2 linked regions of the Homo sapiens genome follow. The protein of the gene in region 2 interacts with the protein of the main gene of each other region in a pairwise test. Each region holds a gene or a part of one and is shown on either strand. Other genes may lie near its edges.

Region 1 (3,822 bases), on a different chromosome or scaffold from region 2:
TTTATGATAAGTCATGTAATCTACAGATTTTATGAGTCAGTTTTGGCTCTTGGTAGACGACCCTATGTCCACGTCCTATTACCCTAAACTCTCCTATTTTTTCAGGATTTGATTAATCAAACTCAACAAATATTTGAAAGTTTGCTATTTGAAACACAGCAATCCATATTATTTAATTCACATGAAGTAAAAAAGCTTATGGAAAATTGCCCTTAAAAGAAGGAGACTTTAAAAGCAGAGAATGTAATTTGGTGGAAAGAGCCCAGGTTTTAGATTCAAATAACCAGGGATTTAGCCTTCACTTCTTTGAGCCTTAGTATCATTATCTGTAAAACTGAAGACAATTTAAAAATGTTAAAGGATTAAAAGAAATTATGTCTATAAAATCTTTCATATATTGGTACTCAGTATGGAAGTGTTAGGTATTGTATTAGACTTAATAAATCAAAATAGGTACAAGAAACATCATGTAAACAATAAGGGCTTGAAGGGGTTTTAATTTCGTGCCAGTATTTGTCTTAACTAATTGGTCCTTATTAATGTTTAGGTTGTTCTCCATGTATTTCGTGTGTTATCCTTTCCTGACTAGTTTGTTTCACCAACCTGCTTACAAACATATTTGAGCACCCACTATGTGCTAGGCTGTGTGATATTTTTGGATACAAAGATTAATTAAACGTGGCCCCTTTCCACAAGGAGTTCACATATAAGCTTCTTCAAGTTATTTTTCTTTTATCTAGTGAGTACTGGTCATTCTAAGCTTTGAAGTCATAGCTAAATACAACATGGGAGTAATAGGCAATGATTTCCTTAGGGTTTAGCAATAGACCAATTGATCTCAAAATTTAGGAGCCTCTACAACTAATGTTCAAGCAAGCTGCTAAGCAGAGACTCAGAGATAAGGGGAAGAAAAGCAGGAAGTGGCTCTGTTGGTGGATGATTTAACAACCTCCACCATAGTATCAGAACAACAACAGACTGGAGGCTTAACCCTCTTTGTGAACCGACCTCAACACCCAATTCCTTCTCATTGAAATAAAGAAAATGTGTACATACATCTGTACTATGCCTTTTCCCCTCTCACTTGTAGGCTACCCTGCGTAATCATTGTAATGTAAGATATTCTAAAACGCTGGTGTAGGGGATGAACAAAAGGGAAGGAGAGTGAGATCCCTGCCCTTCTTCCGGGTCCACATTTCCCATGCACTAGCAATATTTTAGAATTTTTTCCTGATACTGCTGCAGTTCCATCTTTGATTACAATCTGTTTATAATATAGTACCTTGACCAAAACCCCAGAATCCTCAGTTTGGATGAAGAATAAATACATTTAAGTTTGAGAAAGAAAACCATCTCCAATATCAACTTGTTAAAATCACTAGGGCAATTTCTAAATCTAGCAGTTAGATTTGCTCCGATCTGGAAAGATTTTGTATGATTTATAAGATCAGAGTGAAGACTTCAAACCCGTTCTAGAAATATGTGATGAATAGATAGTTAATATATCTAAGTATGGAAATGAAAGACATTGACATTAGGAATGAATTAACTTGAAGGTAAGCTCAGCACTCCTGTCAGCCACTACATTTAACATTCTTGTCATTAAATCTTTGACCGGGCTCTTAATAAGTAAAAATGTATGCTAATGTAAGATTTGAACCTATTTCTTTCTCAATTTATTGCCACTCAGCACTACCATACAGTAATTTACCTGTGACCTATGAGTTTAGTATGATCAAAATTCACTAGATAAAAGCAAAGGAAAACTAGTGTCTTTTATTAGGGCACTAAGGCATAGACATGCTATAAAGCAATACAATGACCTATATAATTTACAAACTATTATGATTAACTGAATGCCGTGTTGTGAATTGGAGTATTAAATACTCCAATTTACTCCAGTGTACATTGGAGTATTAAATACTCCAATGTACTCTGATGTACTCCAATGTACTCCAATGTACATTGGAGTATTAAATACTCCAATTTACTCCAATGTACATTGGAGTAAAAGGCTTCATTGTGAATTGGAATACTAACATTTTCCCTACCTACTGTTTGGGTGAGGCTTGACATTTGATTTTCCCCACACTCTCTTATGATTATTATTGTTATTAGTATTTCTAAATAGATAAATTGAGGAGAAAGGAGCATCTTTGCTTTTCATACATCTAATAGTTCATAGAAAAATAGGTGTTTACTCATATTTTATGTAATTTTAGGATATTTACATAATTTTGTTGCCTGAAATTTAAAACATATCAAGAGCTCAAATGTTCTATCTGCCAGGAAAAAACAAACAAACAAAAAACCCTACTGTCTTATTTTCTTCTGGTAGGAATAAACTGCCCTGATTGTAATTTCTATGCTAGTTTATCAGTAAATAATATTGGCAATTTTGACTCAAGCTATTGGAGTCCATGTTTTCTTCATCTACTCAAGTCCAGTAACTTCAATTTTCACTGATGAAGAAACATTTTAAACTAAATTACTTTCAGTAAATTCAATGTCTAATGACCCACCTATGTTTATATAAATGATGGATTTAGTTGAAAGTTACATTTATTTATCATTTTGAGTACTCAAAACCAAACAATAGAGAAATCCTTCCCACACTGGAATTGTCTCCAAAATGTAATATTTTGAAAAGATGATTTTATGTGTCAATGTATGCATATATGTATGTTTCCCCTTTTATTTATGGGAAACAACTGATATGGTGCCTACGTAATCATAGCCAAATATTCAGGAAGAAAGGATACATACTTGAGAATAGAGGGGGAGGCACAAATGAGATGAGAAGGAGAGTCAAGTAAAAAGCAGGAAGGCTGGGCTCAGAAAACAAGACTATTAGTTAAAAACTCATTATATCTTAAAGTATAATATCATTCAATACGTTATTATGTAACTCTGCTATATTATGTAACCACTTCCAGTTTTGTGAATTCATGTGACCTAATCTTAAGAAGGTAATTTTTTCCCATTAATTCAGTAATTTCATTGACTGAACATCTGGGTAATGCAAGTGGGGTTTCGTAAGGTAGAATTCCATTAAATAAATGTTAATTCCAGGAAGGAAAAAATGTGAAGCCCTTTTCTTGACCTAACATAGGTTATGTTAAATAGTTTAAAATTCTCGTAGGTGATACTGAAATTCAATCACATTGATAAAGAATCTATTCCCAAGTTTTCTTTCTAAATGCAACTATTTCGAGTACATCTTATATAAAATCAACTGTATCTTTGTGATGTAAAGACCTTTATGTCTTGTTTCAAAATAACAGCAGTGAATAAATGTGTATGATAAGCTTTTTATTTTTATTGAGCAACAGGACATTGCAATGACTTAATATCTAAAATATTTATTAAGACTTTGGGGGAGTAACAAGTGAGCTTGGAAAAGCTTGTCTGCTCATTGCCACTGAGATTATTTTTAAGAGAATGTGGATTTATGGCTTAGTAGGATCACTGAATGTAGTTACTCAGTGAGGTGGCTGATTGCAACCAAAATCAACTTTGGCACTTGGTGTGCTGGCCTCTGACTGTTGCCCCCAAGAGAGTTCTAGTCTGGTTAGATTTTAGGGAAAAAGAAATAGGTTATGTTCCTGAAAGTAGAGTTCAGAGGATACAGTCTAAAATGTTATGTTAGAGAGAGGCAGCAACAAAGGAAAGAGAGAAAAGTCTTTCGGTGCATTGGTAAATACAGCCTGTGTGGGTCTGAATTTCCAAGTGTTTGCATTAGATTTCCAAGTTTTCTTTAGTTTCTGCTACTCATCAGTTTTACCTCTTCTGTTTTCTGCCTCCTTTTTCTTAATTAATGTG
Region 2 (3,822 bases):
ACCCTGGAAGGTTCACCTGTCGGTGTCACACGGTTCCTTCTTCACACAGCAGGAACAGAGGTACAGAGAATGGCGTCCAGGCCTCCTTAAGGACTCTCAATCCATGAGACAGGAAGCCCCACAGGGAAGCAGTGGCCCCCCGCCCCCTATCTCCTCACATACAGCACTCTGTACCTTCTGCTCATTTTTCTGTAAACCTAAAACTGCTCTAAACAATGAAGTCCGCCACGCAGAAACTGCACACGGATGTTGAGAGCAGCTTTACTCATAACTGCCAACACTCAGAAGCAACCGAGATGTTCTCCAACAGCTGAATAAATAAATAAACTGTGATACACCTAAATAATGGAGGATTATTTAATACTAAAAAGAAAGGGGCGGCCGGGCATGGTGGCTCACGCCAGTAATCCTAGCACTTAGGGAGGCCAAGGCGGGTGGATCACCTGAGGTCAAGAGTTCACGACCAGCCTGGTCAATATGGCAAAACCCCATCGCTAATTTAAAAATACAAAAATTAGCCAGGCATGGTGGCGCACGCCTGTAATCCCAGCTACTCAGGAGGCTGAGGCACGAGAATCACTTGAACCCGGGAGGCAGAGGTGGCAGTGAGCCAAGATTGTGCCACTGCACTCCAGCCTGGGTGACAGAGGGAGACTCTCTCTCCAAAACAAACAAACATCATCTTCTGGGGGAGGGGGGAATCTATTAGTTTAAAATAAAAAGAGGCTTGAGATCAGGAAGCTTGCATCCAAAGAGGTGTGGAGGAGGCGTGGACGAGGGTGGAGTTGTGTGGACCAATGCCGAGAACAGGCAGGCACTAGAGGCAGGCTGAACAGAGCAGAGTCAAAGACAACGTTTGGTTCCTGGACTGAGAACCCAGCTGCCGGCAGCCCAAGTTGTCTGATGGGAGAGTTTCCTAATGTCCTTGAATCTGCAAGATGCAAGACTTTGAATGGCCCTTGCCCACAGCAGTGTGGAGCAGTTGATGCCCATGACCTTAGGGACCTGGAGTCCTGCGGGGTTTGAGGGGGGCAAAGAAAACCATTCGTCCTGGGAGGCAAGGAAGCTGGATGTCAGGAAGGCTGCCCCAGTATGGAACTCAGAGCAAGGGGGACATCCAGGTTCCCTTCTGCGGGCCTGGGGCTCTTCCTAGGGGCCAGATGCCTTCTCATCAGTACACGAACAGAGGCGGGGGCAGCCAGCAGAACTCCTAAGACACAAAATGAGTGAACACTGGAAAGGGAGCTGAGACAGGCCTGCAGCAAAGAACAGACACCAGGCTTTTCCAATCTATAGGAAGGACTCAGAGTTCATCAAAATCAAAATAGCAATGCAAGATGCTCAAAGCACCTTGTGGCAATTATTACAAATCCCCTCCCCAAATCCTGAGAGATGAAGATGGATAGAGAAGCTGAGGAGGCTGGGCACGGTAGCTCATGTCTGCAATCCTAACAGTTTCGGGAGTCCGAGGTGGGCGGATCGCCTGAGTCCAGGAGTTTGAGACCAGCTTGGGCAACATGGTGAAACCCCGTCTCTACAAAAAAGCAAAAATTAGCTGGGCATGGTGGCATGTGCCTATAGTCCCAGATACTCAGAAGGCTGAGTCAAGAGAATCGCTTGAGCCCAGGAGTTCGAGATCAGCCTGGGGGACATGGAGAAACCTTGTCTCTACAAAAAAACTTTAAAAATTAGCCAGGCTTGGTGGCCTGTGCCTATAGTCTCAGCTACTCAGGAGGCTGAGGTGGGAGGATCGCTCGACCCTGGGAGTTGAGGCTGCAATGAGCTGTACTTGCGCCACTGCACTGCAGCCTGGGTGACAGAGCAAGACCCTGTCTCAAAAAAAAAAAGAGGCCGGGTGCAGTAGCTCATGCCTGTAATCCCAGCACTTTGGGAGGCTGAGGCGGCAGATCGCTTGAGGTCAGGAGTTTGAGACCAGCCTGGCCAACATGGCGAAACCCCGTCTCTACTAGAAATACAAAAACTAGCTGGGCATGGTGGCAGGCGCCTGTAATCCCAGCTACTTGGGAGGCTGAGGCGGGAGAATTGCTTGAACCCGGGAGGCAGAGGTTGCAGTGAGCTGAGATCGCACCACTGCACTCCAGCCTGGGCAACACGGCAAGACTCCAACTCAAAAAAAAAAAAAAAAAAAAAAGAGAAGCAGCTAAGGGTAGATCCTTGACAATAAGAACCCCCCATTCTCCTCAAATGCATCCACTTCACATTTGTATTTTGAAACGGTGATGTCCTTGTTGGTTTGTGTTTTCAATAATAAGCTCCCGAGTGCATGACACCTCCGAGACGCTCCTTTTATAATGTGCCTCCCAGAATGCCATCTTCGTTAAGGTTCCAAATGCCTTGTTTTTGTTGATGGAAAGGATAGCAATGCCAACTTGGCAGTTGGCACAAAGAATTCACAGATGGATTGAAGCCAAGATCTACAATTTGCATCAGCTTGAGTGTACAAAAAAAAGAAAAGAAAAAAAGAATAGCCGGGCGCAGTGGCTCACGCCTGTAATCCCAGCACTCTGGAAGGCCGAGGCAGTTGCATCACCTGAAGTCGGGAGTTCATGACCAGCCTGGCCAACATGGTAACACCCTGTCTATTAGAAATACAAAAATTAGCTGAGCATGGTAGCACACACCTGTAATCACAGTTGCTCGGGAGGCTGAGGCAGGAGAATCGCTTGAACCCAGGAGGCAGAGGTTACAGTGAGCCAAGATGGCACCATTGCACTCCAGCCTGGGTGACAGAGCGAGACTCTATCTCAAAAAAGAAAAAGAAAAAAAAGAATGATTTTAGAAGGCAAAAAGTAAAAGCGTCAATGCTGATTCTAAACCATCAGACCGGGGCATGATGACCAGTTGATTTTTTTTTTTTTTGAGACAGAGTCTCGCTCTGTCGCCCAGGCTGGAGTGCAGTGGCGCAATCTAAGGTCACTGCAATCTCCGCCTCCTGGGTTCAAGCAATTCTCCAGAGTAGCTGGAATTACAGGCGCGCGCCACCACACCCAGCTAACTTTTGTATTTTTTTTAGTATAGACGGGGTTTCACCATGTGGGCCAAGATGGTTTCAATCTCCTGACCTCGTGATCCGCCTACCTCGACCTCCCAAAGCGCCGGGATTACACGCGTGAGCCACCGCCCCGAGCCGACCAGTTGATTTCTGTGCTGCTCAAAGCCATTGGTGACCAGTAGGTAGGGCCAGATTTCTGCAAAATAGGCCATTGTGTAATTCGAAAGGAAAGAACAACTTGGCCATTCCTCAACAAAAATACACAGGCTCATAAAACAAAAAACTGTGCAGAAACTCCTCCACCAGAGAGTCATTCTTTCCCAGAAACCTGCAACTCTTTAAGAATTAGAGCACCATTGAGAAGCATGGAGTCGCAGCACCTGCAGCTGGCAGGGGTGTTAAACTGGTGATAAAGGTAGCTGAAGTCTGCTTCCAGGACGAGAGCGCTTTGAGGGGGCTGGAGTAGGGGGAGCTGCCTGCAAGGTGAAGACGTGGGAAACCTCAGAAGCCCTAAGGAGAGAGGGGCGGGCAGGGGAGGAGAGGGGCAGCAGATCTATTCTTTCACAATGCTGTTGGGAACTGGCCAGGCTGTTGGGTTGGAGCTGACACAGGGCGCAGCTGTGAGCCTGCTGTTAACCACACATGTTCCCTTCCCGTCCCCTAGGAGCCACTTGGCCACTGAAACTTGGCCTGGAACAGCCAAAGATTTGGTGACTCACTGTGTGAGCAGTGGGGGTGGGTCTTCTCTAGCAAATATTCACAGGGCATGAGGTTAGGACATCTACTACCCAAAATTCACTGCCCAAGAT

What was found.
Region 1: the proteins of TBC1D16 (region 2) and RGS17 interact in a two-hybrid assay, tested with the Homo sapiens proteins (one large-scale study listed by BioGRID).

What each region holds. Positions count from the first base shown.
Region 1 is NC_000006.12:153,121,119-153,124,940, reverse strand, and holds part of RGS17 (regulator of G-protein signaling 17), read left to right. Parts: intron 1-3,822. UniProt on the Homo sapiens protein: Regulates G protein-coupled receptor signaling cascades, including signaling via muscarinic acetylcholine receptor CHRM2 and dopamine receptor DRD2.
Region 2 is NC_000017.11:80,025,762-80,029,583, forward strand, and holds part of TBC1D16 (TBC1 domain family member 16), read right to left. Parts: intron 344-3,822; exon of another isoform or gene 50-343; intron 1-49. UniProt on the Homo sapiens protein: May act as a GTPase-activating protein for Rab family protein(s).